Linked DNA regions of Homo sapiens. The protein of the gene in region 2 interacts with the protein of the main gene of each other region in a pairwise test. Each region holds a gene or a part of one and is shown on either strand. Other genes may lie near its edges. The genes, in order: GEN1, HUNK, ZNF793, KDM6A, MTMR10, VSNL1 and AGAP3.

Region 1 (4,067 bases), on a different chromosome or scaffold from region 2:
TTCCACCCTAGCTACTGGGTTTCAAGAAATAAGCCTGACTCCATCAACATCTTGCACTTTTGGTCCCCATTTTTTTTTTTTTCTCTGAAGCGATTTACCTCCTGGATGATACGGCTGCTTCTAGATTTAAGGCTCTGCAAAACCAGTTTTAGTTCCCACATTCCCTTAACACGTTTGTTCCTTTTCTGGTCCACTGAAATAGTTGTCTTATAAAGCCTGGCTATATCCTTTTATGCTTGTTTCTTTTTATAATCTATTATTACTATGTGTTTGAAGTAGAAAAGTATGATAAAGCATGACTTACTATGTTGTTCTGATTATAAGCCCTGAATAAGCTTTTAATATTCCAGGAGGCCTTTCCTCCACCTTTACAAAAACGAGCTTAAAGATATTAGGAATATTTTAATTATAAAATACTCAAGTAAAAACACCACCTTCACCATACAGTTCTTTACATTACCGAATTGGCTGTAGTTGATTAGAGTTTCTGCTACCAAGCTTTCTTTCTATCATGTCATAATGGGTCAAAAGTACCAGCAATTTCTCACATGCATAGTGATTGGGCCACTCCATTTTTTCAAGAGTAAATCTCTATAAATATAATAAAAATAAAACAAGATTTTGTTATCTCTTGGAGACAAATAGCACTCCTAGGTGATATTAATATTTTTTCCTTTAGAATTAACGTAAGTTAAAGTAGTATCAATGAGAATATTCTAGAAACAATGAGCCTCCTAAGGAAGAATCATTATTGCATAATGATTAAGAGTGAAGGCTCTCGGTTTGAACGCCAGGATGATATTTCTTAGATGTTGGGTAACTTACTTAAACTCTCTTAGCCTCAGTTTTACCATCTGTAATGTGAAAATATTACAACCCACTTCACAGATTACAAAGATTGAGATTACATGCAATGCATTAAACATAACAGCAAATTTAAATGTCTAACAAATGTTGGCTGTCATTATTAATGTGGCTGTCGTTCTTAATGTGGCTGTCATTACTTACAGCTGGTACTTGTAAGTACCCAGTTGTTGCAATTTATTGAGCCACTCCGTGTCCCTAGCCACTATATTAGGAGTTAATATAAATAATCTCATTTAATCCTCATGGTGACTTTATGAGATAAGTAATATTATTTCTGTTTTGAGAATAACACACATCCAGGGTCACACAGTAGGTGGAATACGGTCCAAATTTAAATTTAGGTCATTAATTTCAGATATCAATGTTTTTGTAAATGATACTACCTTCCATAATTATATACTTGATCTTAACATTCTCTTGTTATTAAACCCTCTTCCCCCAAAATATCCATGGATGCAATATATCCACATATGCTAATTAAGGCATCTTCTAAAACAGCATAACTATACTTTGTCTTATAGTGTGCAAAGATGGCCACTGTATGGCAAATGAGAGAGTAGAAATAAATGCTGAAAAAATATAAGAGCTGCCTGTTTTAATTTTAAACCTCCTCTAAGACCAATCAGAGTGAATATCTGTTCCTATCTTTCCAGCATATAACTTCATACAGTAAAGAAGAATTTATTTTCAGATACCTGAAACAATAACAAATCAGGTCTTTGGTACCTGATAACCTTCACCAATTTATCCTTGTTTAAAAGGAATTCTTGAATAACCTAGCAAGAAAAAAGAAAATAGAAACTGAGATTTAAACTTTTAAGAAAGTTTCTAAAATTAATAGAGTTGAATTACTGGATATTACCTCATGGAATGGGAATCCCTCACAACAGCAAGCTTTCCTGAAAAAAAAATTATATACATGTTATTACTATAATCAGACAATTTTAGACTCTGAAATCATCTCAGCCAATCTCCTCCCATTTAATAAGAAATGTGAATTTACAGTATCCCAAACAGTCAAGCTTCCCTTTGAATAACTATTACATTACTATCTCCTAGGTTAGCTAAATTTTTGAACAGAAATGAAAAAAAAATTTAGTTAAACATGTGACTAATCTAGATATGGGGAAAGATTATATGGAAATAATTCAACCAAAGGTATGTGTATAGGTCATGCCAGGAAAAATCATGAGTTTTTAAAAAAACTTACTTCTTAATATTGTTCTCTACTTCACTGAGTTGCCTATCATGTTCTGTACGGTGCCACTCACAAGGACAGCAGTATTCATAGTCATGTGGCTCACAATATTTATCACTTTTACATAATCTGCATCCATTACGTTCATGATCCTTAGGTGAACCTTTATGGAGACCCAAAAAAAGTATAATATTTTTTGCCTTTTATAATTACTTTCTACATACATTCTTTTTGCCAGTATCTAAATTTTCCAAAATTAATATTGCCTAGCACACTACCTAGCATATAGAAAGGTTTCAATACATTTAGGATGAATAGAGTAATAGACACCATAGTAATTCTTGGGCTCAAGTAGATCTTGAGCTATTACTATCACATGACACTTTAGAAAAAATTATTCTTCTATCTGAAAGTGTTAATTAGACACTTGAAATTATACATTTACAATAATCAACAACAGAAAACTTTCTGGTTTAGGTGGAAGCTACATGCATAAAAAGTAGGATGTAATTACTAGCAAAAAAGATTATTTACTTAATAGAATAGCTCTAATAGAATAGTTTCTTTAACGAGTGTATTAAAAGAATATAGCAGTTAATTACCTCTGCTAGTGTCTAGCTCTCAGTTACAGTTATTTTTAAACTATCCTTGGAACATGAACAAATGATGACTGTGGCACGGGTGTGGAAATTTAATTCCCTTTAAAAGCAAAGTGTGATTACTTTCAACATTGTCTTGAGAATATGTAAGAGCACATATACTTGATATGACCTAAAATTGTCATTTATAAGTTATCAAAAAACTATACAATAGCATCTTATTTATAAAAACATTGATTTTCTTCCATGATTTTATCTATAATTTAATAATGTTAATAAAAATATATTAAGACAACTAGATATAGCAGAATTTCTTTTAAAAGATGAGTTAACATGATATCCTAATCTCTTTTGGGAATGAAAGGCCTTTCTGATCCAGTACGTGTTCCGTAGTGTCTTTTTTTTTTTTAAACCAAGACTAATGAAGAAGATCCAAGCTATTTTCAAGAATAGTGAACATGTATTAGAAATTAGTTTTAAGTCACTGTCTTCACACACAAAATGCATTACAGGACAATGAAGAATCATTTAAGTAGATAAATATAAATCACCAATATATTAACAAATGGTTTCAGTTCCATTTTCCCTAAGACTTATTAGTATATATTTTTTTCTTAAAATGGATTTCTATATTGAAAACATAGTTTTAAGATCTAAGTAATTTGGTATCATAGTTTGAAACTGTACTTATATTTATCATCTACATCACATTATTGGTTTCAATAAACATTTACTGAGTGACTACTATGTGTATATAACAAAACTGACTGCAAGGAATTCCTAATCTAGTGGAGAAGACAATGTAAAACCCTTCAAAGTATTATTAATATTGGCATGTAAAAAGTACTATGTGAACAAGAATTAAAACATGGGTATGAGATACTAATAACCATTCCCTATGTCTCCTTACCTGGATGGGAACATACGGAACAATGAGCCAGTTTTTTAGTGACTAGCAGTTGTGGACTAGAGTTACAAGATGTTTCATTCCACCGATTAAACCTTTAATAGAAAGTGGTTTTTAAAAAAAGGAAAAAAAATGAGGTCACAAAAACGGTATGTTCTCAAATATCAGGCTGATCTATTCCCTTTCACCTACCTAATTATTTTCCCTTTGGTGGCTGATAAAGTTGCTGGCCTAGTGTGGGAAAACCCTCAGTCACAAGCTTTAAATGTGGCCCCAAGGCCCAAGGACAGCAGAACTGCAAGACAGGAGAGAGAGTATATGTGTGTGTGTATCTATATATCGGTATCTCTATTAAAAAAAATTGTATATATATATATGTATGTATATATATATCCAATCAGTCTTTTTTTTTTGAAGAATCTTAAGTTAGGCAGCAGTATGTGAGCAGACTGACTCTGTGTGCCAGAGTACAAAACAGAATCATGAACATTTCTCT
Region 2 (4,067 bases):
AATTGGCGAATGGACATGAACAATGAACAGAAATGAAGTACAAACAGTTGAGAAGGTATGAAAATATACTCAATTCCCATGTAAATAAGAGAAACAATAAATAAGACAAGATACCATGTTTAATACACTCGATTGGCAAAGATCAAAATGAGTACCCTGTTGGCTGACATGTGGAAAAGCAAACACTCCCATACCAGATGGGTGTGGTTATAAGTTGGGAACCCTTATAAATTATAAGGGTTATCAATGTGATTATAAATTGCCAACCTCTATGGCAGGCAATTTGGCAATACTTATCAACAGTTAAAATAGACATACCTTTTGGCCTAAGACTAGGAATTTACCCCTCAGATACACTGAGGGGTCACATTTACAAAGTGACAAATGGTCATGGATATTTACTGAAGTATGGTTTGAGAATAACAAAAAAAAAAAAATTATGTACTCCCTAAATGTCCATCAACAAGGGATGGTTAAGTCAACATGATACTTCCACACAATGACTACTATGCAATAACTAATTAACATAAAGAGTGAGGCAATTCTGTAGTAGTCATGGGGAAGAATGCTCAAGACATATTGCTAAGTGAAAAAGCAAGATAATGAACAGCATGTACAGTTTAAAAATACATCTGCCCTGGTGGGTGGGAGGGATGGATGAAGAGAAGCTGGTTCATGGGTACAAACATACATAGATAGAAGAACTAAATTCTAATGTCTGTTAGGGTGACTATACTTAGTAGCAATACTTTGTATATTTCAAGGTAACTAGAACAGAGGACTTGATATAATACCAACCCGTGGAAATGAATACTTAGGTGATGGACACGCCGATACTCTGGCTTGATCATTACACACTCCATGCATGGAACACTCACATGTACCCCATAAATATGTAAAATATTATGTATCAATAAAGAAGAAAAATCTGCCCCTAACTACGCATTTACAAATATGTATGTGGGTCTCTATGCATATAGGGTATCTCTGGAGGGATACACAAGGACTAGAAGGAGGAGTGACCTCTCACGAGAAGATCCAGGAACTGAAGAGCCCAGATAAGAAGCAGTTACCTCTCACTGCAAACCCTCTCAGAACCTTTGAATTTCAGACCATGTGTCTGTATTACCAATTCCAAAACTTAACCAAATGCATCTTGAAAACACAAAGATGATTAAAAACCAAAAAGAACCCAGTGATTAGAAGTTGCATAGCTAGGGCACAGTGGCCACCGTAAGAGTGCTAAGAGGATGTTAACAGATGGCTCTACCCTGAGTAGTTTTTTTTGTCCATGAGAATGTCCCAAACTGTTACTCTACTCATCAAAAATCCAAATTCCCACAACTCCTTCAACAACTTTTCCCACCACTCACGAGTGATGGGGGAGGGGGGGTCTCTTCCCAGGAAAGTGCCACCGTCTCTGAAGTAGGCATGCTGGCCCACAACTTGGCCCAACACTCAGTTGCCCCAGAGTTCTCAGGAAAAAACCCATAGAGCATACATATAAAGTGAGCTTTCAATCTTGTAAGTACTGAGAAACACAACAGAGCCCTGATGATTCTAACCTAAGAGAAATGTGAGGCCAGAAAATCCCCCAGCGTGTGGCACATAGAATCTGCTAATGAGATGCCACGCCGGCTGCTCCCTCATTGCAGGGAGAGAGACCACAGTCGAGCAGCAAGGTAGGGCAGGCTGAAGAGAAGCTGGTTCATGGGTACAAACATACATAGATAGAAGGACTAAATGCTAATGTTTGCTACGGGGACTATATTTAGCAGCAATAATTTGTATATTTCTTTGTTGTTGTTGTTGTTGTTGTTGCTGCTGCTGTTGTTATGGAGTTTTTGCTCTTGTTACCCAGGCTGGAGTGCAGTGGCACAATCTCGGCTCACTGCAACCTCCACCTCCTTGGTTCAAGCGACTCTCCTGCCTCAGCCTCCCGAGTAGCTGGGATTACAGGAACACACACTTGGCTAATTTTTTTGTATTTTTAGTAGAGACAGGGTTTCACCATGTTGGCCAGGCTGGTCTCAAACTCCTGACCTCAGGTGATCTGCCTCCCTCGGCCTCCCAAAGTGCTGGGATTACACGCGTGAGCCACCACGCCTGGCCATACTTTGTATATTTCAAGGTAACGAGATGAGAGGACTTGATACCAACACATGGAAATGATGACCACTCATATCCAAAATGCGCATGGAAAAGATGCCCACGTTGTCTACGGTCCATATGGTATGGACTCAGATGAAAAGCCCTGGACTCTGACCCTGTCTCTTTCAGTAAACAGCAAATGCTGGGCTGCACCCCCAGATTCCCCGTCAGTGCTGAAGAACTGACTGCCTCAGCTGCAGGCTATCAGCTGTGAGCTCTCCCCAGGAACCGCCCTCAGCAACTGTCCCGTACGAGGCCATGCCCCTTGCCTGGGCAGCCCCCATCAAGGACTGGCCGATGCGGAAATATAAATCCCAGTCCTCTCAACCCAAGTTGGTCAGCTCTGAAGGGCCAGCTCAGCTCCAGCACTCACCACGGCATGGGCAGGGGCTTTGGCTGAGAGCGGTATTGGAGCCCAGCTTCTCCCTCTGCCCAGTGCTGCTTTGCCCCTTCCCTTGCAGAGGTCAGTTCTGAGAGTAATCCCTAAAAGCACATTCATCTCCTTCCCAAGATCCGCTTGCCACAACCCAATACTGACAGTCTAAAAAGGTGCTGGAGCTTGAACTATGCTCCCCCAAAAGATACCTTCAAGTCCCGTTGGTACCTGTGGATATGATCTTCTTTGAAAATAGGGACTTTGTAGATGTCATCGAGTTAAAATGAGGCAACACTGGATTAGGGTAGACCTACATCCCATGACTGGTGTCCTTATAAAGAGACATAGGAAAAGATTAAGAGACAGAAGAGACACTCAGAGGGAGGAACACTGTGTGAAGACAGACGCAGAGACAGAGCGCTGCAGTCATAAGCCAGAAAATGCCAAAGAGTGCTGGCCACCACCGGAAGCTAGTAAGAGGCAAGGAAGGATTCTCCCTGTGGCTGCAGAGGGAGCATGGCCCTGCCAACACCTTGGTTTTGGATCCTAGCCTCCAGAACTGTGACAGAATAAATTTCTGTTGTTGAAGCCACACAGTGTGTGGTAATTTGTTAGAACCATCCTAGCAAACTCATAGAGAATGTCAGAGAGAAGATCTACTCAGGGCACCCTTCTACGTAATCAAGGCAGGCAAGAACACCAGCAAGCTGGCTGTTACCCCCTCCACCAGGGCTGCTGCAGGCATCTAACAAGAATGTGCACGGGAGGGGCACCCTGAAAAAAACCGTAAAACACTGTAGCACTGGGCTGGTGCTGGTGATGGAGGAGAGGGAACAGCTGTCTCGAATTCACAGAGGCATCCCCCTCCTCGGGGACTATTCAGTCCCTGTGTTTCTAGCTCTTTCCTGCTGGTCATCGTACCACCCAGTGGCACCTCCTATCAGAAAGCGTGAAATTCAATTCAGGTCAGTACTTAGACCAGGGCTGAGTAGAGAAAGAAGTTTCACCCATCAGCTAACATAAGGCCTGGGGATTATCTACGGGTTTCAATTAGCCAAGAGAGCAGGTCTCTCCGTTACCATAAATAATCGACAGAGGGAATATATGTCCCAAGGCAAATGATAACCCTGTGCCCAAGCCTCCTTCCCATGGAGAACACCCCAACCTGTCCCTCTCTTCGGGGGCACATGGCTGCCACTCCCCACCCCTTCTGGGCAGATAAACCCTGGGACAGATGATTGCCGCGCTGACCTCCAATAGCTGGCAGCATGCAGAATTCTATAGTCTCACAGACCTGAGTCGGATTGGTATGCACGGGTAGCTATAGCCGTGACTCAACACCTGCAGAGAAAATGTAGGGTTGTACTCCTCTCCGTGGGCACCGTTTCTGCACTGTTGCGCTGACTCAAAGCACCCTTTGAAGTCCGTGGGACCTGTATCAATGAACACTAGGAACCAGGCCCTACGTGCCAATTTCCATCATTCACAAGTACTTCAAAAAGATGAGGCAGGGCAGGAAGTTCAAAAGAATCCGCCTGCA
Region 3 (4,686 bases), on a different chromosome or scaffold from region 2:
GATCCTGGCCTCAAACAACCCTCCTACCCCAGCCTTCCAAAGCACTGAGATTACAGGTGTAAGCCACTGTGCCTGGCCAAACAAGGAATATTTAATGACCTGGAAAAGTATCTGTTATATAAATGAAATTATCTCAATTCAAACTTGGAAATTTTGTTTAAACACAGCCACATCTTGCCTCTCCCCATGGTGCTCCTCCCCCCCAATGAATATCCCATTAAATTAGAGATCAAAAACAGACAATACTAAGATTAGAAGCTAGGGAACCTCTGGCAGAGTAGTGACTGGGAGGGGCATCATGAGGGCACGGTGCTAGAATGTTGTTTTCTGATCTGAGTGCATTACCCAGGGGTATTCCCTTGTGACAATTCATTGAGCTACATATTTATATACATTTTTGCATATATATCACAATAAAAAGTTTATGTAAAATTTCTTTTTAATTATTTGCTCTGAAACCTGGCACTGAGCACAGTATAGGTGGTGAAGGGAATCAACATGGAGAAAAAATTACCCAAACTCCTTACCCTGGCTTATTATTTCACCCATGCTAAGCAGCTATCTGTCTTTGATTCTGTGCAAGTGAAAAACAGGGACTATCTGCTTTTAAAACTAAAATTTGACCTATGTGGGTTCTGAAAGATGTTACCTGCCTTAGCATCCAGCTGCCTTTATTTCTTAAGATGCTACAGGCATTGTGCTTTGTCTGAAGGTTACATAAAGATCAAACGTAATAATTTTTTAAAATTAAAATATTGTTTTGACATTGCACTTTTTCATTAATGGTCAAAATCTTATTTTCTAACTCAGAAATAGAAAGTCAAATACTGCATGTTCTCACTTATAAGATAATAATGTGTACACATGGATATAGAAAGCAGAATAATAGACACAGATGACTCTGAATGGAGGGAGGGTAGGAAGCGGGTAAGGGATGAGAAATTATCAGATTGGTACAATGTACATTATTCAAGTGATAGTTACACTAAAAGCCCAGGCTTCCCCACTGTGAAATATACCCATGTAACAAAACTGCACTTATATCCCCTAAATCTATTTTTTCAAATCTTATTTCCATTTTATTTGCAATCCCATCTCAGCCATTTTAATAACTATTAGTTCAATTTTAATTTCAGTGAGGAACAGTTTCTAAAAGTAGCTTACATTTTGTTTTGTGGCGGTTGTGGCTTTATCTGTCTTGAATTTTTTCTGCCAGGACTTTATAAGGAATTGATTAGTGGAGGTTAAAAATGGCTATGCCTAAAATATATAGGACAAGGCAAAAAGTTTCTCAGAATACAATAAATTCCAAATCTAGTTTCTCTTCCTTTGATAATTTAAGTTGAGCCTAGATAAAAGTATTTTCTAAACACTCTGTTTGCTCTTTCAGCCAAATCTTTTACATTATCATTTTATTTTATTTTGTTTATTTATATTTATTTATTTATCTTGAGACAGAGTCTCATTCTGTCACCCGGGCTGGAGTGCAGTGGTACAATCTCGTTTCACTGCAATCTCCACCTCTTGGGTTCAAACGATTCTCCTGCCTCAGCCTCCAGAGTAGCTGGGACCTCAGGCGCCCGCCACCACGCCCGGCTAATTTTTGTGTTTTTAGTAGAGGCAGGGTTTCACCATGTTGACCAGGCTAGTAATTCCTGACTTCAAATGATCCACCCACCTCAGCCTCCCAAAGTGCTGGGATTACAGGCATGAACCACTGCACACAGCCTACATTATCATTTTAGATACTTACTCAGTAAATTTGTTTTCTAACCACGGGCAAGGTCACATCCATCCCCGCTGTCACAGAGTCAGAATGGATTTCCAGAAACCAGCCTCACTCTTGGGATGCTGGCACAGATGCGTATGTCATTACCTTTGCCAGAAAGAGCCTTAAAGGAAACATTAGGAAAAAATATGCATTAGATCCCTAACAAGAATAGAAGCCACGTCTTTAGTAACATGTTACTTTAGATAAGTTTAGCACGCGATCCTTTCAAATTATTTTCATTATTGTAGAGAACAATAAAAAGGGTGTGGGTTCAAAAAAGAGTTTTCAGATGGGCCTTGGTGGAGAGGAACTGGCTGCTATTCAGCTAGGGAGTGTCACCTGAGTGAAATGTGTTCCCGCTATGCAGGCTTGCAGCCTCAAATCTGTGATTTTCCCATCCCCAATCTCCACATTTCAGGACCCTCAACACCAACCCCTATAAGTCTCCTAATCAGACACGCATAGTGCCCCCAATCACTGGCCTCCAATCTCCAACCCTCAGAGGTTTTCATAGTCACTGATATTCCCCTATGTTCAAATCTGACCAGGAGAGACTACAGGTCAGTAACTACAAAGAACACCGATCCGATCTGATTGCCAGTGAAATTACACAGCCCCCAATCATGAATCCACACTGATTGCCAATGATATCCCAACGACTGAGGATCAATTGTTGATTCTCACAGTCCCACTCCCACCCACAAGTGACAGTCCGAATCACTGAGCCTCATTGAGGCGTACCTTTAAGATAAGCACACTTGACTCTATTCTCCATTCCCTGATCTACAAAAGTCCAATCGTTAATACTCTCCGATCCTCCACCGATGATATGAAGTAAGTCTCAATCACCGATGGCCCAAAACATTTCTCCAAACATTCATCACCACTGACCTCCCTCATTTGAACCCCAAAGTTTCCACAATCACCAATTCCAGTACCCAAACTATTACTGCCCACAGAACTTAGAACCTCCGATCACTGATCCTCTCGGGCTCCGATCATTAACCTTAAAGATCTCTAAACCAGTGTCTGAAAAATCCCAACTGACCCCAGACCCATGAAGACCACTATTACTGACCCCATGCACCCTGAAAATCAAGACATTTCACAGAACTCGCATTTATTGATTCCCACACACTCCCAATCCATCTTCTTCAGAGACCGTGCCACTGACTCCCGCAAACCTCTGTCCGCCACCACTGAGGCCCCGCGAGGCTCAGACGCCGAATCTCTTAACCCTTCAGTTCCCTTGTCATTGACCCTCACGGGCACCCATAGCTGACCCAGTCGGCCACCGTAGTCGGCAGCTCACTATCCTCCACTAGTCCCAGGTTTGACCGTTTCTCAAACCGTGCCTTCCCATTTATGCTGCATCCGCGCCCTGAATCTGAAATTGGTCGTCCTGCCACGCCGCCTCACCGCGGTATAAGGTCGTCCCATCCTGAATGGCCGGTGCGCAGACTCAATTGCGACTTTGAGGCTGTCAGCCGCCACCCGGCAACCTTCCAGTGAACAGGATTCTGGGTTTCTCAAAGCTGTAATTGGAGGTATGATGGCGACGCCCACTTGACTCCTACCTGGGGCGGCCATGTTTAAAACTGTGCCGTAAAACGGATGATTAAGCCCTTTGCTAGACCAAAAGATAAGGCTATTTTAGGACAAGGAGAAGGAAGTGTCCCTGGATCCCTAAACAGAGATGTCGTCTCTGCTCTTAACTCAGCATCTCAGATGCCAAAACCTCCTGTGGCCAACATGGTGGCGCCCAGACATCAAAGCTGAGCTTTCTTTGTCTCCGGCAGCCTGGTAAGATGGCCGCGTACATTTTTACCGCTTCTTACGTGCAATGGGTGCAGCCTCTCCTAGGAGCTCCCCTATGGCAATGTGAAACTCTTTCTGAGCCAGCTCTAGGAGTTAGAGAGCAGCGAAGAGACTCGCTCTTAGGGAGACAGAGACAGCCTAAGGACGGGCGTGACTTCACGGAAAGGGCGGAGCCGCAAGGAAAGGGCGGGGCTGCCGCAGCGGGAAGAGATCAGAGTTCTTAGCGCATAATGGAAAGGAAATGTTGAAAGCAAGGTTTTTACCTAAGGAGGCTTGCCCGAGAAGCCGACCTGAGGAAAGAATGAGTGCAAGCAGTTTATTTGGTAGGTGGGGGATGGAGAAGTGAGACGGGAGCGATGGGAACGAATATACAGTGCATAGGTGAGCAGATTAGCTCTGGATCAATGAGGGCTCAGTCAGCTTGGGACCTCTGGGGGATTGTGTAGAAACCACTTCCAAGTTTTCACAACCACCAGGCCGATGAAGCTTACATATGTCTACACCATCTCTCTTCCTAATTGTTTTAGGGCCACTCCAGAGGTGTTAAAGCTCCAGCACTTCGAGCCTGCCTCGTGGGAAAGTCTTAGGCTGAGTCTGTAGGTGTCTGCAGTTAAGAAGCCAGCGGTCTGCATATGATTGCTCAGGGGTGGTGGCTGGGTCCAACAGCATTCACTACAGGCCTGCCTTGAATACCACCTAGCGCAGTGCTCCGCATATCACAGGTATTGGAACATCTCTAGAAAAGATTGCCTTGTCTTATGAAAATGGCTTTTTAAAAAAATCCTAATTCCAACTGGTCATCCTAGCAACTGATACAATAACTGACCTCAAAATGTTTCCCAATGATTCCTACCTCCTACTATTCACACTCTTATGTAGTTCCCTCCCACATTGTACCAGGGTTGGACTGTGAGACTAATAGAATGCAGTAGCAGTGATAGATGTCACTGCTGAGATTAAATATAATAAATGGCACCTTGAGTTCTGTCTTAAAGGCTGCTGCCCCCACTTTGAGAGAAGTTAGTTGCCATGTCATGAGGATACCGAGACAGCCTATGGAGAGGCCCAGGTAGCAAGGAACTAAGCCCTCCACCCAA
Region 4 (4,585 bases), on a different chromosome or scaffold from region 2:
AGGACTCCAGCTCATTCACTTCATTCAGAACCCAATTCAAACAGAGGGTGCGAAGTTATATAATGTCAGGCTTTACATTACACACCCCACTGGTATGTTCAGGCTCACAAAGATGCAACCAAGAACTATATGCGGTTGCAAGCACATATTACAGAAGGTTTTATTTTAATGTTAAGGCTGATGAATCTTGTCCTAAGCAGGTAGGACACCTCACAAGCACTGAGTCTGAAGCAGTGAAGATTTTTTTTTCTTTAGTTTAACAAACTGCTTAATCGTTCATCAAATTACCCCATATATCATGAAGGCCCCAAACATAGTGAAGCTTCACTAGTTTTTCATTTTTAAGATGTATTCAAACATCAAGTAATGCACAACTTGCCAAGAATATTTGAAAATGGTTACTTTTTTAAAATTTAAACTCGTTAGTGCATAACTGCAGGGTTTAATATTACAATCCGAAATCCAATGTTAAGCACTATTCGCAGTGAATCTATATGAATATGAGCATTCTAAGACATAAAATCAACTAGCATTTTACACATTCTCAACATAAAACATCAGATTCCATTTATTTTTTCATCACCATAACCAAAAGCAATCGATTTGGCCAAACTTTTCCACGTGAATTATCTTTGCAAGCAATTTTATTAACCCATGTTAGACCAACAATAATCCCTCCAAAACAAAATAATGCTCTTTTAATTTAAATCATGTTTAATCTTTTATAATGACAACTTTGACAGCAGTCAAATATTTTTAAATAAAATACTTTAAATACTCAAATTGGAAAAAAAAAAAAAAACTTTAAGGCAGGAGACCAACAATTACTGACGCTTAAATCTTTCCAGAGCTAGTCACTGTTCATTTTTACAGCAATAATTGTAATGAAGCCAATTAATACCTACGTAGTCAAAGTTTAATTCAAGTTTTCTGTATCGGTCAAAGGGGCCGGGCTTACTGAAAAGCATTATTTCCATTTAGTTTTCTGATTATATGCAATATAACACCTTATAATTACTTTGAAATAAAAACAAATGTGTAATTACAGATAAAAAGGAATTGATGACTCTGCGAAACCAAGCTACAGACAAAAATTCAGAACAACAAAAAAATCAACTTAAGAATAAAATGTTAGACTTATTTCAAACTTGCGTCTCAACTGCAACAATAAAGCTAGGTGTCAAATGCAAAGCTATGATTTCAGCTAGAAAAGAAAATGTCTAACGGATACAACACCCATAGCACACACTCCAACTTTCACGGTCCCAATTACGAAGAAAGTATTCAAATACCATTGCAATCAGATTTTGGTCAGGAAATATAAACTGATGCATACAGATTGAGACTCCAGCCTTTGTTCAATAGCTTACAGATGGATAACTAAATGTGCTACAGGTTGATAAGCATTTACCAGGCTTATGCATGCTGCTTCCAAGCTTATGAAAGGTATAAGAATTCTATATGCAAATAATCTTGGGTAATTTTTTTTAAACACCACTGAGCTACACACTCCGAAGGAAAGGCTTATTCACGGCTACTATTTATTTCCATGTTTACCTCTACACCCTCCCCCTAACCCCCCCCTTCACTTTCTCCTCCCACCCTGTCCCGCCATCTTGGGCCGATAGGAGCAGCCATTACTTAACTAAATGACAGTGCCAACAACTTTCCACACAAATAAAAAAAGACTACACCCCGAATCCTCCCCAGCCTCCCCTGTCAGACACACAGGAAATGAGGCTCCAGGAAGAGAACACGTTTACAAATAACTACGGTATTTCTATGCCAAAAAGACCCAAAAAGTAAACAAGTCACCTAACTTCAGGTAACACACACTGCAATCGAGATACATGTCAACAGCCCAATGCAAACTCTTCACCGACCTAAACTCCGTGAAACTTCCCCCTTCTGGGAGCGGGGACACAAGAAAGCCTAAAACATTTGGTTAGCAGTAGGCATCACGAACAGCCTGCTTGAAGGAAAAGAATTTTTTTAAACCCGTAGAGGCAAGTTAAGTCCGAAATTTGGGAAAATCTGAACACACTCACGATCCCTTGACCCTAAACAGGCACCTCGAAGATCATCGGCCTACCCTCAAAAAGCTGTAAAATAGCAGGCAGTTGTGTCGACCCAGTTGAGCCCGGCCCCAAAGCGATCCCGTCTCTGTTCCTCCAGCTACAAGAGGAAAAGAGCGATTTCGCAAGGGAGCAAGCAGGGTACCCGGGGGTGGGGGGAGAGCAGAGGCAGGAAATAGTTTCCGGAAGCCCCTCGACCATCGTCCGTGGCCACAATGAGCACAGACCCGGCCGCGGGGCCCGGGGCGAGCGCGGCGCCGGCCAGGGAGACGGTGTCCGCGCTCCGACTCGCAGCTGCCTTACCTTGCCCAGTAGGGCCTTCGTCCTGGCGCCATCTTCATGAAATCTCACGAACCCAAAGAGGCGGCTGTGGAGACAGACACAGTTTACTCGTTAACGCTCAGGGAACGCCACCGACCCGTCCCTGCCCGAGCCCGAGGCCCCAGCGGAGGCGGCGCGAAGAGCGCCAAACCGAGGTGCCCGCCCCGCCGCCGCCAGAGACAAGCCGCGCTCGGTCCTCCCGGGAGAGCGGCTACTGCCCGTCCGGAGCCGACCGGGCGAGTGACGGCGGCCCGTACCTGTCCAGTCCGCCGAGCGCCTCCCTCTCCTCGGCTGTCAGGCTGGGGGACGCCTCCTCGCTCTCGCCGCTCGCTTTTCCCGCCGCCATTTTCTTTTCCTCATCACCGAAAGCGGCGGCGGCAGCGGCGGCGGTAGCGAGCGACACTCCGCAGGATTTCATGGAAACGCAGCGAATTCACAACTCCAACGCCGACACCCCCCCTCGGACCGGGGCCCGCAGTGACGCCCCCAATCTGCGCGCGGGACCAGCACACCAACTTTATCGCCGCCTCCTCCTCCGCCGCGGGCGGCGGCGACGAAAAATCCCAACGCGGCGGCGGTGAAGGCGGCGGCGGCGGCGGCAGGGGCTGCGGAGCCCCCGGGTCGGCAGCGGCGGCTTTCGGCTGTAGGGTCACATCGCGGGGTTGGGCAGGGGGCAGCCACAGGCGGGGACGGCGGGAACGGCCGGAGCGCGCGGGGCTGGGGAGCACTGAGGGGATTCGTTGGAGACACAAACTTCCCCGGCACCAGCACAAAGTTGTTGTAATTGTGTCACACAGCGAACCCCACGCCGCCGCCGTGACCCCCCCTCCCCGCCCGGCTGGCGCCACCAATCGGCGCGGCCCGCACGCCTCACGTGACCTTTGTTGACTCACGTCAGCCGTGGCTCCACTTAACTTGCTAGCTGCCCGAGCCCCGCCCACCGAGGCCGCCACCGAGATGGGAGCGGGACGCAGGCCAATTCTAGCCGGTGGTTGGCTGCTGGGCGCGTCTGTCGGGGGAAGGGTTGTCACCGAGAGGGAGCTTCCTGTTAGGTTGTGCTGGTTAAATACACTGGGGCAGAGAATGGAGGGTCCGGGCCGTGTCACCTCGGGAACCGCGGCGGGCTCTGGAGGGGGAGGGGAGTGGTGGGGAAGGGCGAGGTCCGGCACCGCCCGCGGCGGGCGCGAGCGGCGGGCGAAGACGCCAAGGACGGCATTTGCCTGCCCGCGAGCTCTGGGATGTGCCCAGACCGCGGCTCCGGCCGTCCCGCGCGCGCTCCAGGGGTCCCGGGACCCCACAGGGCCTGGTACAGGTCGCGTAGCCGGGAGGCGGCGCACGGCCCTCGACCTCTGCCCTCCGAAGAAGGCTCAGACTTTTGGCACTGCTGGAAATAATGGCCTCCGCGAGGAGGGCGCTCGGGGAGCGGCTGCCGGTCCCGTGCCCCGCGGTCCGGGTGCCGCCCTAGGCCAGACCTGCGCTGGCAGCCCCGATCACCTCACCCGCGCCGAAAGTGAAGGGGGAAGGGCTCCCCTGACCCCCGCCCATACGCCCCAGGCCGGAGGGAATGAAGAGTCGCCCGCGGGGCCTGGCTTGCCGACCATGGCTCCCCACCGCCAAAGGTCTGTCTGTTGGCGGCACTTTGGGGCCAGATTTTCGTGCTGTGTTTACCCTGTGTCTTATCAGTAGTTCATTACAGTCTTACAAGAAAAAGCAATGAGAAATTGTGAAGCGGGATCTGCAGAATGTTGGGTTCTATTGCCATGATTTCAGTGGAGCCTTCTTACAAAAGTAGGGGCTGCTTGTGGACAGACCTGAGAGAAGACATAATTAAATCATCACAGCTGGTGGCCCAAGAAATCCTTTCTATCCCCCAAAACCTGCAGGTTTGTAACCCCTAGACAACAGTAACATTTTGTTGTTCTGTCTCTCAGGTGCAGGGGAAAGGCTTTAGTCTGACTTTTAATCTTTACTATAGGTGAAAAAAAAATAGGCCTTTCGACTACTCTTCTCAAAAGGCAAATTTATTTACTAAGCTGTATGTCTTATAACAGGGATAGGAAAAAATTGATAGACATATAAGGACAAGATTCTGTTTATAAACGGAGTTTTTTATATTTTCAATAGGTTTTCCACCTGTAACCAATAAAAATTATATATTTAAACTTGGATTTCAAAATATGACGAAGACA
Region 5 (4,225 bases), on a different chromosome or scaffold from region 2:
AAATACGAAAAATTAGCCAGGTGTGGTGGTGGGCTCCTGTAATCCCAGCTACTTGGGAGACAGAGGCAGGAGAATCGCTTGAACCTGGGAGGCAGAGGTTGCAGTGAGCCGAGATCACGCCACTGCACTCCAGCCCAAGTAAGAGTGAGACTCTGTCTCAAAAAAAAAAAAAAAAAAATTTAAAAAAAATTTTAAAAAATTAAAAAGCAAGCACTGACATTTACAGCTAAGACCATGTTGTTTCTGAGTGTGAAATCATAGTATGCAGAGTGGAGGAATCAAAGCCTAAGAACCAGGCCTGTTCAGAGTAAACGAAGTCAAAGTTCAATAGCTCATAGGCACTCATTCAAGATGAGTACTGTTTCCTCGTCCCTGCATTTTAAATGCTCAGAGTGACTAAGACTAAAACAGAGCACACAGGGAGCAAGGGTTACTTAGTAATTCTACTGTTCACTCTGAGGAAAAGTACAAATGATTAATTAGTACACACTGTTGAGTGAAAAGCACTAACAAAATCAAGGGAAAATATTTATGACTCCCATAGTAAAGTTTAAAAAACACTTTTTAAACTTTCATATGGAACCAAAGTTTGGTGTTTTTAATATTTTGTCCCTATATAATATTTAAAATTTTAAAGTTTCCACATTTGTTCAATTTTTACCTACAAAATTCTAATTATTTTACCGATTTGGCTTTAAGTAATGAGTCAGATTTTGCAATGCTGATAGTAGCCACACAAACTAGTATTTGATTTCAGGTTTTTTTTTTTTTTGAGACGGTGTCTCACTCTGCCGCCCAGGCTGGACTGCAGTGGCAGGATCTCGGCTCACTGCAAGCTCCGCCTCCCGAGTTCATGCCATTCTCCTGCCTCAGCCTCCCGAGTAGCTGGGACTACAGGCGCCCGCCACCATGCCTGGCTAATTTTTTTTTGTATTTTTAGTAGAGATGGGGTTTCACCGTGTTAGCCAGGATGGTCTCGGTCTCTTGACCACGTGATCCACCCGCCTCGGCCTCCCAAAGTGCTGGGATTACAGGCATGAGCCACCGTGCCCGGCCGATTTCAGGTTTAAAACAGGCTTTCCTAAGTATCTGGCTACTTCCCCTAATAATCGCATTAAACAACTGACTTTTCCTAATTATTATACAATTGTTATACAATTCAAAATACCATACCAATATTCTGTATGCTCTAAAACAAACCCCTTTCTACCACCAATCCCTACTTCCATCTCTAAGGTCACCTATAGCAAATTTTGTTCTAAAGCAGTGATTCTCAACTGTGAGATTTTTGTCCCCCAGAGGTAGGGGACAAAAAAAAATTGGCAATGACTGGTGGCATTTTGGTGTGGCAACTAGGTCGCAACTAGGTGGTGGGGGATAAGGGTACTACTACTGGCATCTAGTGGGTGGAGGCCATCTTTGTTGCTATACACAGGACAGCCTGCCCGTCCAACTATGAATTATCTGGCCCCAAATGTCAATTAAGTGTCTCTGCTGGGAAAAGCCTGGTTCTAAACTGAAACAAGCAAATTTGCAAATACAGCTGACAACTTCAAAAAACAATTGCCAAGCAAGTAATTCAAAGTTCACTAAGCTCTGTTATTGGTATAGAGACACACACATAATAAAGGCGTCTTTTTATACTATCAAAATGCATTAAAATGATTAATCATTAATGCAATAAGTGGCAAACACGTCAGCAAAGAGTACTTTTACTACCCAAGCAATTAAACATATACATCTTTTCAAAAAGAAATTCGGGAGACAAAAAAGGAAATGAGGTAATGACATTCTTGACAGTTCCTTTTTCTCCTCTCAGTCACTAGACTTTTAACTGGAGAAAGTTTAATGAGAGAAGGGAAGTTAACCACATGATACTAGTCGGCAGAATAATCTTAAACCAAAATACGTTGCTAAAGTATCTGTTAGAATCCTAACTAATGTTTACCTGGCAAAAGGACTGGCTCCAGTTTTTTAATCTTCGGTTCCGAATTGATCTTATCGTCAGTCTGAAATACATTAGCAAAATAAATCAAAATCTCAATCCCCCCACCCTCCGTAAAATGCTACAGCAAATGTTGTTTTCTAAGTGATGACACATGCGAAAGACACACAGCCCCCCATTTAAATTCTTTCGCATATTAACTGAGCTGTTTTTAAGATCTGCTCATTATCGACTTGGAAGCCTAATAATAAAAAATGTTTAAACTGCCAGTGTCGCTTCCAGGTGTTCACATTTATGACAGACGGGTAACCGCCTCGACCAGTGACCCCAAGCGCTGCAATCATGCTGGCGGTCATACGAGGGAGGGTCGATGGGTTGGAAACTAAAGAAAACCCCAGCTCCCAAGGCTCCCCTGGGCCTCAACACTCCGCAAAACTACGGACGACAGAACTTCGGGCAGAGAATGGCTGCAGAAGAGTTTTACAAGTTTTCGCCGAGCCAGTGGGGGCTCCCGAGAAGGCGCATTTCGCGGCGCCGGGAATCAGGCAGCCGCGCTGCTGTGGGCAGGGAGACGCGCGCAGCCTCCTGGGGTCCTCCAGTTCCCGGGGGTCGGCCTGGAGGCTCCACGGAAGCGCAGAGGAGAGTCGGGCGCTCGCGGGGAGGGGTTGTTTACCTGGGGCGGTGGCAGGAGGTAGGACCTGAAGGTGGGTTTGGGCGGCTTGAGGGAGAACATGGTGCCGCCGCCTTTTCGCCCCGTTCCCGTCGCGGGCCAGTGGCAGCGCCGACGCCTCCGGGCGTAAAGCTCTCAGTGCGGCCGCCCAGGCCCTTTCTGCGGCCAGCCGAGCCGGGCGGACTGACGGGCGGGGATACGGCGCAGCGCCCGCCCGAGCGGGGAGGGGCCGGGCACAGCCAGGCCGACGCGGGCGCCGGGGCCCATCCCCGGAAGGGGCCCGGTGCCCCGCCCCGAGAGACGGCGCGCGCAAGGCCGCGGCCCGCCGCTCCCTGACCGTGTCCCGTGCTAGTGCCGGAACGCAGCGGTGGCGCCAGGTGCCCGCTGGCGGGCCCTCAGCCGGGGCGCCGCGGGGAGCGGAGCCCGACGGCCATCTCAAGAGCGCGGCCTCTGGAGGGTCCTTCTACGGCGGCCCGCAGGGGTCAGGCGGCCCGCGGGGGCCTACGGCGGCCTGCGGGGGCCACGGCGGCAGCGGTGGCTGCCTGGGACGGCGGCGCGGGGCGTCTTCTGGCCGGGCTGCAGTCCTGGGACAGTTCCCTTGACTTACACATGGGCCGACTTCGCCCTCCGGCCTGGGCGAGCATTGTTTTGAAGCTCTCAAGGAGGAGCTCAGGGCAGGGAAAGGTGACTCGGGTCCAGGGGTCAGGCGGTCACCCCGTCTGCGCCCAGGATGCGAGGAACCGGCACTGGGAAAGTGGGCCGGTGCCGCCAAGCACAGGTCACTTCTGAGCTCTTACGGTAATTCTGACTGGAGCAGATTTTGGTGGGAGGGGGCTAGTGGTGTTACATTTTGGTGAATCTATTACTTGAGACTAGGTCCTTCTTATACCTTGAAGAATCAAACCCCAATCCAGCATTTTATGATTAATGCCACAGGGAAGCTTCCATGCAGCCATACCAGTCACAATCACGCTGATGAGTGTTACTCACAGGAACATTTAACAATTTAAATAAAGATTCAAAAAGTTATTCTTTTTCTGAAAATAATTTATCCTGGATTTAGAACCCTACTGATCTTTCAGGTTAACCTGTTTGAATTCCACTCTGCCCAAGAACCGTAACCATAATTGTATTTTTTAGAGTCAGGGTCTCACACCATCACCTGGGCTGAAGTGCAGTGGCATGATCAGGGCTCACTGCTGCCTCCACCTCCTGGGCTCAAGTGATCCACGTGCCTTAGCCTCTCAAGTAGCCGGGACTATGGGCATGAGGCACCGTGCCTGGCCATAATTGTACTTTAAAATGTTAGTTCCATTGGATTAGAAGTGTTAAAATCACTGTCGTGCACACTTTTTAAAAAATTTTTATGAATATGCTGTTATTCCTCTATATTCAACGGATATTTTCTACAAATACTCTTTAAGCAATAATTGGCTTTTTCTTTACACTTAAATGACTCTGTGATTTGGGTTTTTCTGTACAGGTTTTCTTAGGATCTGCAATTCTAATATGTGACCATACAACTGAAAAGTGGAAAAACTCTATTTCCAGATTTATTATTGTCTTAACACTAAATTTTATGGCATTTCCCAGATATCTGGTTGTATTAG
Region 6 (4,067 bases), on a different chromosome or scaffold from region 2:
ATTGTCAGTGATTACTTTTCTCCTTTTACTTCTTTTATCAATAGCATTTGACATGATTGCACATTCCATTCCTTCCCCACAAAACAGTGTGTTTCCCTTCCAGGACTTCTCACTTTTCCTTTTTTACTTTGACCTTTCTGGCAATTCTTTCTCCATCTCCTTTACTGATTGTGCCTCATGTTCCTCACCTCTAAACATCAGGTTGCCCCAGGACCTCAGTCCTCTGGAAACCTCTTTTCTATTTATATTCTCTGTCTAGTTATACTCTGATATGTCCTCTTTCACTTAAATACCTGAATAAGTATCACAACACATGGGGCTGGTTCCCACCAGCCAGAGTAGAGAAACCTCACTAAATGTATGAGAAAATCAGTAAGAACCCCAAAATGGTCACAAATTGGGCACTGGGCTAACTTACTACAGAAAACCTACTCTCCATCTGCTCTAAAAGCTTAAAATTATAAAACTGCCTCGAAAAGATCACGCTAATTTACATATAACTTACCTGCCTGTCAAAACTAATCTCAGCACTCTATAAATGAAGACAACAAAATACAGACACTCTAATGCAACATTCATAATGTCCAGGAACCAATAAAAATTATTACACGTGTCACGAAGCAGGAAAATGTGACCCATAATCAGGTGAGAAATCAATCCATAAAAGCTCTGAATAGAAGAAAGGAAGAGCTAGAAGTGATGGGGAGAAACGTGGAAGAACTAAGAGAAAGAAAAGCAGCCGCTGACAGCCAGGAAATGGCCCGGACTGCCCACCGGGCCTTGGTGCTGCCGGGAGCTGGCCCAGCCCTCACAGTCAGGTCTCACACCAAACATAACCAATGTCACAAAATGCCAGTGACCATGATGGAGCAAGGCAAAAACAAGACCACTCTGTCATTAAGTCTGAACACAGACACAAAACACCAAGCATCCCTGCTTCCTGCTATGGTGAGTGACCACTGCTTCTTCACCCGTTAAGAGCATTGCATTGGTCTGTGTGCCCTCCTCCTAGGTATCTAATCATAGAAGTGTCCCCACTCCCTGACAGTAACCAATCCACAGTAAACCTCTGCTTCTCCGAACCCTCCCCAAATCACCCTCCCAAAGTCCAGATCCTAGAAGTCCTTTCTAACACCCTCCTGCTGAATTGCCCCAAGATTCCCTCACTGCAAGCAGTAATAAAGTCAACTTGTGTAAGTGTGGGTATGTCCTTGGGGACTTTGGCTGAAGGGCATTGACAAGGATTAGAGAGAAAAGTTTTGGAGAGGAAGGGTTTTGGTGGCCAATGAGGGGAAATGACAAGAAGTCAAAGAGGAGAAAAAACTTGGAAAAACCTACTCTGTAGGGAGCTTATAGAGAGACCTTGGAGGGAGCCAAGTTAAGTGTGGAAGATGGACAAAAGATTAAAGAGTGAGAAAGATGAGAAAATCAAGCCACATGTTCAGAATTATTGTGCTGTATCTTTTCTGATAACCTGCTGGAAAAAATATATATTCAATTGAATGAAGGGAACACAAGTAAAGAACTAAGATGTTAGTTTGCTGGGTATATTTGAAAGGGAGTGGGCATTGAAGATAGAAGGGGAGAAGCCAACGGAGAAGAAGAGACTGAAGATGTGGAATGAGAGGGTGTGCAAGTGAACGAGGCCAGCTTCCCAGGCAGGGAGTTGATGGGTGACTTCTCTCTGAGGCTGGGAGGAGAGTGAGAGTCCTGAGGGGAACTTGGGGCTTTGGCTTCTGTTTCTTGCAATCATCCCATTTTCTTGTGGGGATCCACCCTGCCTGATCTCAGCTCTTGGTGTCTGGATGGGGCATCCCCCCAGCTCCAGGATGGAGCACCTGGCTCTACCTTCAGCAAGTGATACCTTTCTCTCCTTGGTCAGAGTGGCTGGTGCAGGGGTGGGAACCCATGCTAAGACAGTCAATCAAAGGAAAGCTACCGAACCATGCATCTGCTATTGCATGCCTGCCAGGCTCCAGGCTGGGTCTGGGTTCTGGGCATGCAGCCGTGAGGGCAGAGCCTCCTCAGAGAGCTTGCATTCTGCCATATATTCCACTCAACAAGTTAATCTGGGGCAGGGACAGATGTTGGGACAAAACCCCTCTTGGTAAGGGTTAGATTGCTTTGGTGTGAGGGTGGAGTGGGCATATTTGGGAAGGTATGCAGGAAGGAAGACCTCTCTGGGAGATGGGATAAGACCAGAGATGGGAGCAAAGTGAGGGAGGAGCCCCCAGAGGCCAGGGGAGGGCATGCTGGGCAGAGAGAGAGGAAGTGGAAGGCCCTGAAGTGGAACCGGGCATTAGAAGAAAACCAAGAAGACCTTCACATTGGGAATGCAGTACGCAGTGGGTGGCGTGGCAGAGGAATCCTGGGTTACTCACAAACACAATGGGCAAAGCCTGCTTGCTGTGGAATGACCAGAACCTGGAAGGATGTCCCGGGAGCCCCTGACAGCCTCGGGTCCCCACTAGGCGCAGCTGGAGTGAGGCAGAGCAGAGATACACCAAGTGCCAGAGAAACAGCCCATGACATCCTGTGTGCACAGTAAGACAGGTTCGTGGGAGATCCAGTAGTGAGTGAATGGCAGATGACAATGCCACCGTCACGACAGTACGGGCCCCATGGCTTGGTTCTGGGACCTCCCCAGCACTGTGCTGCAGCGGGGACAGAAGCAGGAGAAGTCCAGGCGTGGTGTGCAGCTGGCAGGGCTCGAGCAGAGAGAGAAGAAGCCACTAAGGCCTGCACCTAGGAGGCTGCCGTGGGGTCTCCTTCTGTGCCCACCACCCGCCAACCACACCCCGGGCCTCACCTCGATGATCTCCAGCATCTCCACTCGGGTGATCTTGCCATCACCATCCAGGTCATACATATTGAAGGCCCAGTTCAGCTTCTGCTCAAAGCTGCCCCTGGAGGTGATGGACAGAGCGCAGATGAACTCTCGGAAGTCAATGGTGCCGTCCCCATTCTTGTCGAAGGTTCGGAAGGCATGCTGGGCAAACTTGGAGGCGTCTCCATAAGGAAAGAACTGCAAAGGAGAACACGCGCAGTCAGGTGTCGGGAGGGGATGGAATCGGGGCGACGAGGTAGGTTCCTAATGACGGCATCACAGGTGCTCCTGGGCGTTGTCGGAGCCTCACCCATTGGAGAGCAGTTTGGCCTGACTGTCAAGGGCAAGGGCAGGCATTAGGGGAGGCTTTCTCACAGCAGGTGCTCAGGTACAGGCATCTCATTGTTTCCTGTGGGTGAGGCTGGTGACATGTGGCTTTCAGTTGATGGGGCTTGGAATCGGTCAACAAGCACCACCTGATGCTAGTGTTGCAGCATCTCAGCTCACTCCCCCCAGGAACAGGACTGAGGCAGACAGCAGTTTCTCTCCCCACACAGGTGGTGCTACACGAACTTCAATGTTCCTCTAGATATGAGAATCTGGCTTCATCGCTGCCCAGTAGGGCCAGAGGGAGGGTGCCCAGACCTGGTTTCTCCTGCCACCAGCCCTCGTCCTGGGCCCACACTTATCCCCTCCCTGGGTGAGGTTCCAGTTTCTAACTTCTTTTTGCAGGGACTTTTCTTTTGCAGAACAGACATTTAAAACTCATTAAAAATAGAACATGACTGGGCTTATTTTTGAGAGACATAAAGAGGTTTCTTCACAGAGCCAACTGTCACCAGGGGTGTGTGGGAGGCAGAGAATGGACACAAGGAGGAAAGGGAAGCATAGACCACAAGGAGGGAAGGCCATGGGGAATCAGTAGGTGGTGGCCTCAGTCCCCTTGGACATAAGCCTAGGCCAGTCACAAACAGCAGGTAGTTCTGATAATTAACAAGGAAGAACTGCAAAGCCCCAAATACAACCAAAAACAAACCATGTGCTATTTTAAAGCAGAGAAGTTACGTATGTATTTCTGGATGAATAAATCTGGGTTCTGGGCTCTATAGGCAAGCACTACAAGGTCTATAGAAGATTACTGAGGTTGCTCATTGATATCCCTTTTCCTTCGTAAGTTTTGCACCTGCTAAGTGGACCAGGTGAGCAGCCTTCATACAGATGGCCTCTTTGCCCACTCTGG
Region 7 (4,067 bases), on a different chromosome or scaffold from region 2:
GGGGAGGAGGAGCTGCAGAGGGTGGGCCTCTAGCGCCGGCCCCAGGCAGGGCTGCAGGCAGATGGGGGCTCTGGGGAAAAGGGCTGCACATGGAGGCTGGAGAAGGGACAGTGCCCCTACTCTGCTTCCAAGACAACGTCAGTACTAGCCCCGAAGCAGGGTCTCTCTGACAAGCCCAGGAGGGCCCAGCTGGGCCCCACCCCTTGGCCTGGACACTGTCCCACTGCAGCCTCCCAAGCCAAGAATGCTGCCCAGTTCCCCTCCTCTCTGTCACTGGGGCCCCAGAAAAGGTGGGAAGCAGCAGAGCCACCACTCACCAGGGTGCTGCATGCCTGGGGGCAGGGAAGTGGTGGCCTCACTCCACTGGTCGGCGCTGGAAACGGAGCAGGAGCGCTGGTGCAGCCCCTCAGGGCGCGGGCCAGCCCAGGCCGAGCTGCTGAGGGGGCGCTCAGAGTGCAGGGATGCGCTGCTGGCCGAGTGGGGGGCACCTGGGGGCGGGAAGGGTCAGACTGGGAAGGGAGGCCGGGCAGGGGAGGATTCTCAAAGATACTATCCTAAAAATAGAGCTGCAGAGCAGAGCCTGAGACATTCAGCAGGGCACTGGGTTCATCAGGTGGCGGGCCAGCTTCTGGGAGAGCCAGAGGCTGCGCAGGGACCCTGTGTGCCTTAGGAAGCAGCCTGTCCCCAGATCTTCACGGTCCACAGCTCTGTCCCCTCACTGTGGTCCGGGAGCGGGGCGGGGGGTCTCTGCATCAGAGATCTTCCAACTTGTGGAACGAGCTGGGTGGTGCTGACACCCATCGCCGCAGTGCTCCTTGAGGGGCCCCTCCTGGCTTGGGCCCCTGCACCCTCCATTCTAGTCCACATATGCCATTTGCTTCGCCTCAGCTTTACTGCCATTCTGACGAGAAATAAGTGTATCAAATTCAAGTAATTATGTCTAATTAGTATTAGTAATTATCCTGTTGGGCTGGAGAAAATTAATCTTTCGTTTCCCATCAGGGAAGAATGGCAGAGCCAGGGGGAACCGAAGGCTCTAGGAAAGCCAAGGCTGGGGCAGGCGCGGCGGCCGGCAGTGGAGGGAGGACAGAGCGCCGCACAATTCTCCCACCTCACTCCCTGGCTGAGCCCCTGCTGGAGAGATTCTGGGAACAGCCGTGGGGCCTCAGAGGCCTGTGGTACAAGGCCTGAGTTGGAACTCCGAGAACCTAAGCTTCCTTCCCCTTCTTCAGTCCACCCAACACTGAGACCACAAAGAAATGGCCCCAGGCGGTCTAAGAACACGGGGGCCGAACCTGAGGTGCTTCAACCTTGAAGCGGAGGAGCCCGCCAGGTGCTGGAGGTTAGTGGGAAAGCAGAGAAGGGGCCCGGAGCTGGCCAAAGCTGGAGACAGCAGGCAGAGGCCCAGCCAGGGGAAGGGCAGGCGCCAGGTCTCACACCAGCCCTGCAGGCGGCGGGACTGAGGGGAAGCCTGCGGGGAGACGGCACCAGGCTGCAGCAGCTGGAAGGTAAAGGAATGGCCCAAGGGGCCACAGCTCTGCTGCTGGGAGACGCCCAAAGGCAGGGAGCAAGTTTTATGTTCCTCTTGTATCTGTCACAACACCCCAAAGAGGACCAGACACATAGTAAGTGCTTAGTCACATACGTGCAGCACAGAGGCTACAGGCCGGTCTCCATCTCCAGGCCCCGAAGAAACATGTAGAGGCTGCCTCTTCAGAATCCCACCCACCTCCCGTCCTCTGCCCTCACAGGTCCCGCCTCAGGAAACCTTCCGGGGTGCACACTTGGTCCCTCATTTCTCAGATACCTTGCTTCTCCTCACCCCTGCTTTCATTCCCTTCCAGGTTCCAAATCTTATTCCCCCTCATCCCTAGCCCCATCCAAAGACATCACAGGCCCAACTTCCTCCCCAAGCCCCCGACCCAAAATCCTGAGGGAGGGAAAGTGCTTTCCCTTTTCTTTGTTAATTCTCCCCTCATTACGCCTGCAATCCCACAATCAGTGTGCACTGTAATTGTCGAATTTGATGCTAATGATTAATGAATTAAACATGGAGCCATCAATTAGTCCTCGGAGGATAATTCTGCATAAAGCAGCGGATAATGTAATTACAGTAACAAAGATAATGAGATGTTAACATCGCCCGGTGAGTGAGAGACATGTGTGAGTGTGCACGAGGGTCGGTGTCGGCGTCGGCATGCGGCAGCGGGACGCGGGCTGGGTGGGCACCGTCCGCGAGCTCCTGCGTGTGGGCGCTGTCATTACAGGAGCGAGGGCACGGGGCTGTCTCCTCCATGCCACTGCCGCTCCCAGGTGAGGGATGTCAGGGACAGGAACGGGACAGGACAGCGTCTTCTCGTTTCCCTTGCTCTAGGGAAACAGCCCAGCTGTCCTCTGGCTCCCTGCTGTCAAGGAAAGGGACTCACTTGGGCCTGCTCCTCATTTTTGGAATGATAAGAGAAACCCCAAGCTGACCAAAGGGGCTCCTGGGGGCCGGTGCCAGAGGGCTCCCCGCAGCTCTGACCCGCTCTCCGGGCAGAGCACTGAAGACTGCATGTGACCTGCCATCAGGCCAGTACAACCCCACGGCAGGCTCAAGGTCCCCCACTGGCACAGCCCCATGATGGGTGGTGGCCGGCCTTCTCCTTCTTAGCTTCCTTCCTTCCCTCCATCCACCTCACAGGCTTCCTTTCTGAGCTCAGGGTGGCTTAGAGGAAAGAAGATTGCTCTTCAAGTCAGACACAGTTAGGTTGAACCCTAGGTCTCCCACTTACTGTGGAATTTACAGACAAGTTTGTTAGCTATGCCAAGCCTCTGTTTCCTCATTAAAATGGGGACAATAATCTCTACTTCACAGCTGCTGAGGACCTGGGACCTGATGCAGAGACATCCACTGCATAGGGTACATCTCAGTTGTGTCAGGCCCCTCCCCCTGGCCACTCCCCTGCCTTCGGGCTGGTCCACGGTGTTTCTGCGAGAGTGGGCCCAGCACACCTGGTTCAGGTGCCTTGCCTCCAACAAGGACCACACCTGGAGGCATCATTGCGCCTTCCTTCCCTCTAACCTGGGCTTTCTCAGCGGAGTCCCATCAGCCTTGTGAGTGGGACAATTCTTTATTGTTTGGGGTCTCTCCCATCCATTCCAGGGGACTGGATGTCGTATCCCCAACCACCTGTCCACTAAGTCTGTCACATCCTCCCCTCACTGTGACAAGCACAGGCCCTCTAGGGAGGTGACTCACCCAGCTGCAGACCTGTGCTGCCAAGCGCTGACTGCTGGGACAGGGCACAGGAATGGCACCAGCAGGGCAGCTGTTACTGGGCCCAGGGAACATGAGATCCAATGGTCTAGGACAACACTGGGGATACTGAAGTCTTGGGGGAAAGCAATCGGGAGCCAGGGGCTCTGGAAGCGAGGGAAACGGGTGTGGAAGGACGGACCCTGGAAGAGCATGGGGCCTGGGGGCCCAAAGGAGGAGGAATGAAGCGGCACTAGGGAGTTGCTGGGGACAGGAGGCCTTTCACCTGAGCCAGCACTGTCAGTTGAAAAGGCAAGAACGCAACAGCTCTTCACTGGAGTTTCTTGCCTCCAGATCCTGTCTAAATTCAGTCCTCTCTGAGCAGAGACCCGCCTCTCACTCAGGCCTGAGAATATGCACCAGGTTGACCTCAGACAGCTCCGTCCCCTTCCACCTCCCCTATCTCCATATGCCAACCTTGGCTGAGATGCCGGCCATGCACCCAGAGGCATGGCCCCCACCCATCGCCTGCCTCGGATCCAGATGCAGAGATGGGCCTAGGACCACCAGCACCACTGCCCAAACATGACACTACTTGGCCCCATCTGACATCCAGATCAACTGCTCGTCTAGGCATTTGCTGTCACCTCAACTAACTCCACGAGGGCTGCGTTAGGGCACATGTCTTTGGCTGAGATGACCTTGAAGTGTGATGCTGGCCAGCACCCTGTGCCCAGGCTGAGAAGCAGCCAAGCCCAGAATGCCTGCTTGCCTTGGCTCCAAGGCAGCCACCCCCCAGGCCCCCACCTCAGCAGCCGCCTCACCTGTG

Evidence for each region.
Region 1: the proteins of HUNK (region 2) and GEN1 interact in a two-hybrid assay, tested with the Homo sapiens proteins (one large-scale study listed by BioGRID and IntAct).
Region 3: the proteins of HUNK (region 2) and ZNF793 interact in a two-hybrid assay, tested with the Homo sapiens proteins (one large-scale study listed by BioGRID and IntAct).
Region 4: the proteins of HUNK (region 2) and KDM6A interact in a two-hybrid assay, tested with the Homo sapiens proteins (one large-scale study listed by BioGRID and IntAct).
Region 5: the proteins of HUNK (region 2) and MTMR10 interact in a two-hybrid assay, tested with the Homo sapiens proteins (one large-scale study listed by BioGRID and IntAct).
Region 6: the proteins of HUNK (region 2) and VSNL1 interact in a two-hybrid assay, tested with the Homo sapiens proteins (one large-scale study listed by BioGRID and IntAct).
Region 7: the proteins of HUNK (region 2) and AGAP3 interact in a two-hybrid assay, tested with the Homo sapiens proteins (one large-scale study listed by BioGRID and IntAct).

The regions. Positions count from the first base shown.
Region 1 is NC_000002.12:17,770,795-17,774,861, reverse strand, and holds part of GEN1 (flap endonuclease GEN homolog 1), read right to left. Parts: intron 3,867-4,067; exon of another isoform or gene 3,764-3,866; intron 3,667-3,763; coding exon 3,575-3,666; intron 3,568-3,574; exon of another isoform or gene 2,668-3,567; intron 2,229-2,667; coding exon 2,078-2,228; intron 1,767-2,077; coding exon 1,730-1,766; intron 1,644-1,729; coding exon 1,563-1,643; intron 592-1,562; coding exon 461-591; intron 1-460. UniProt on the Homo sapiens protein: Endonuclease which resolves Holliday junctions (HJs) by the introduction of symmetrically related cuts across the junction point, to produce nicked duplex products in which the nicks can be readily ligated.
Region 2 is NC_000021.9:31,879,390-31,883,456, reverse strand, and holds part of HUNK (hormonally up-regulated neu tumor-associated kinase), read right to left. Parts: intron 1-4,067.
Region 3 is NC_000019.10:37,505,471-37,510,156, reverse strand, and holds the start of ZNF793 (zinc finger protein 793), read right to left. Parts: upstream 3,219-4,686; 5' UTR 3,191-3,218; exon of another isoform or gene 2,850-3,190; intron 1,893-2,849; 5' UTR 1,754-1,892; intron 1-1,753. UniProt on the Homo sapiens protein: May be involved in transcriptional regulation.
Region 4 is NC_000023.11:44,871,781-44,876,365, reverse strand, and holds the start of KDM6A (lysine-specific demethylase 6A), read right to left. Parts: upstream 3,179-4,585; 5' UTR 2,815-3,178; coding exon 2,654-2,814; intron 2,443-2,653; coding exon 2,379-2,442; intron 2,191-2,378; exon of another isoform or gene 2,093-2,190; intron 1-2,092. UniProt on the Homo sapiens protein: Histone demethylase that specifically demethylates 'Lys-27' of histone H3, thereby playing a central role in histone code. Demethylates trimethylated and dimethylated but not monomethylated H3 'Lys-27'.
Region 5 is NC_000015.10:30,988,829-30,993,053, forward strand, and holds the start of MTMR10 (myotubularin-related protein 10), read right to left. Parts: upstream 2,801-4,225; 5' UTR 2,679-2,800; coding exon 2,619-2,678; intron 2,010-2,618; coding exon 1,949-2,009; intron 1-1,948.
Region 6 is NC_000002.12:17,648,368-17,652,434, reverse strand, and holds part of VSNL1 (visinin-like protein 1), read right to left. Parts: exon of another isoform or gene 3,026-4,067; coding exon 2,810-3,025; intron 2,655-2,809; coding exon of another isoform or gene 2,425-2,654; intron 1-2,424.
Region 7 is NC_000007.14:151,134,564-151,138,630, reverse strand, and holds part of AGAP3 (arf-GAP with GTPase, ANK repeat and PH domain-containing protein 3), read right to left. Parts: coding exon 4,063-4,067; intron 902-4,062; coding exon of another isoform or gene 891-901; exon of another isoform or gene 534-890; intron 489-533; coding exon 318-488; intron 1-317. UniProt on the Homo sapiens protein: GTPase-activating protein for the ADP ribosylation factor family. GTPase which may be involved in the degradation of expanded polyglutamine proteins through the ubiquitin-proteasome pathway.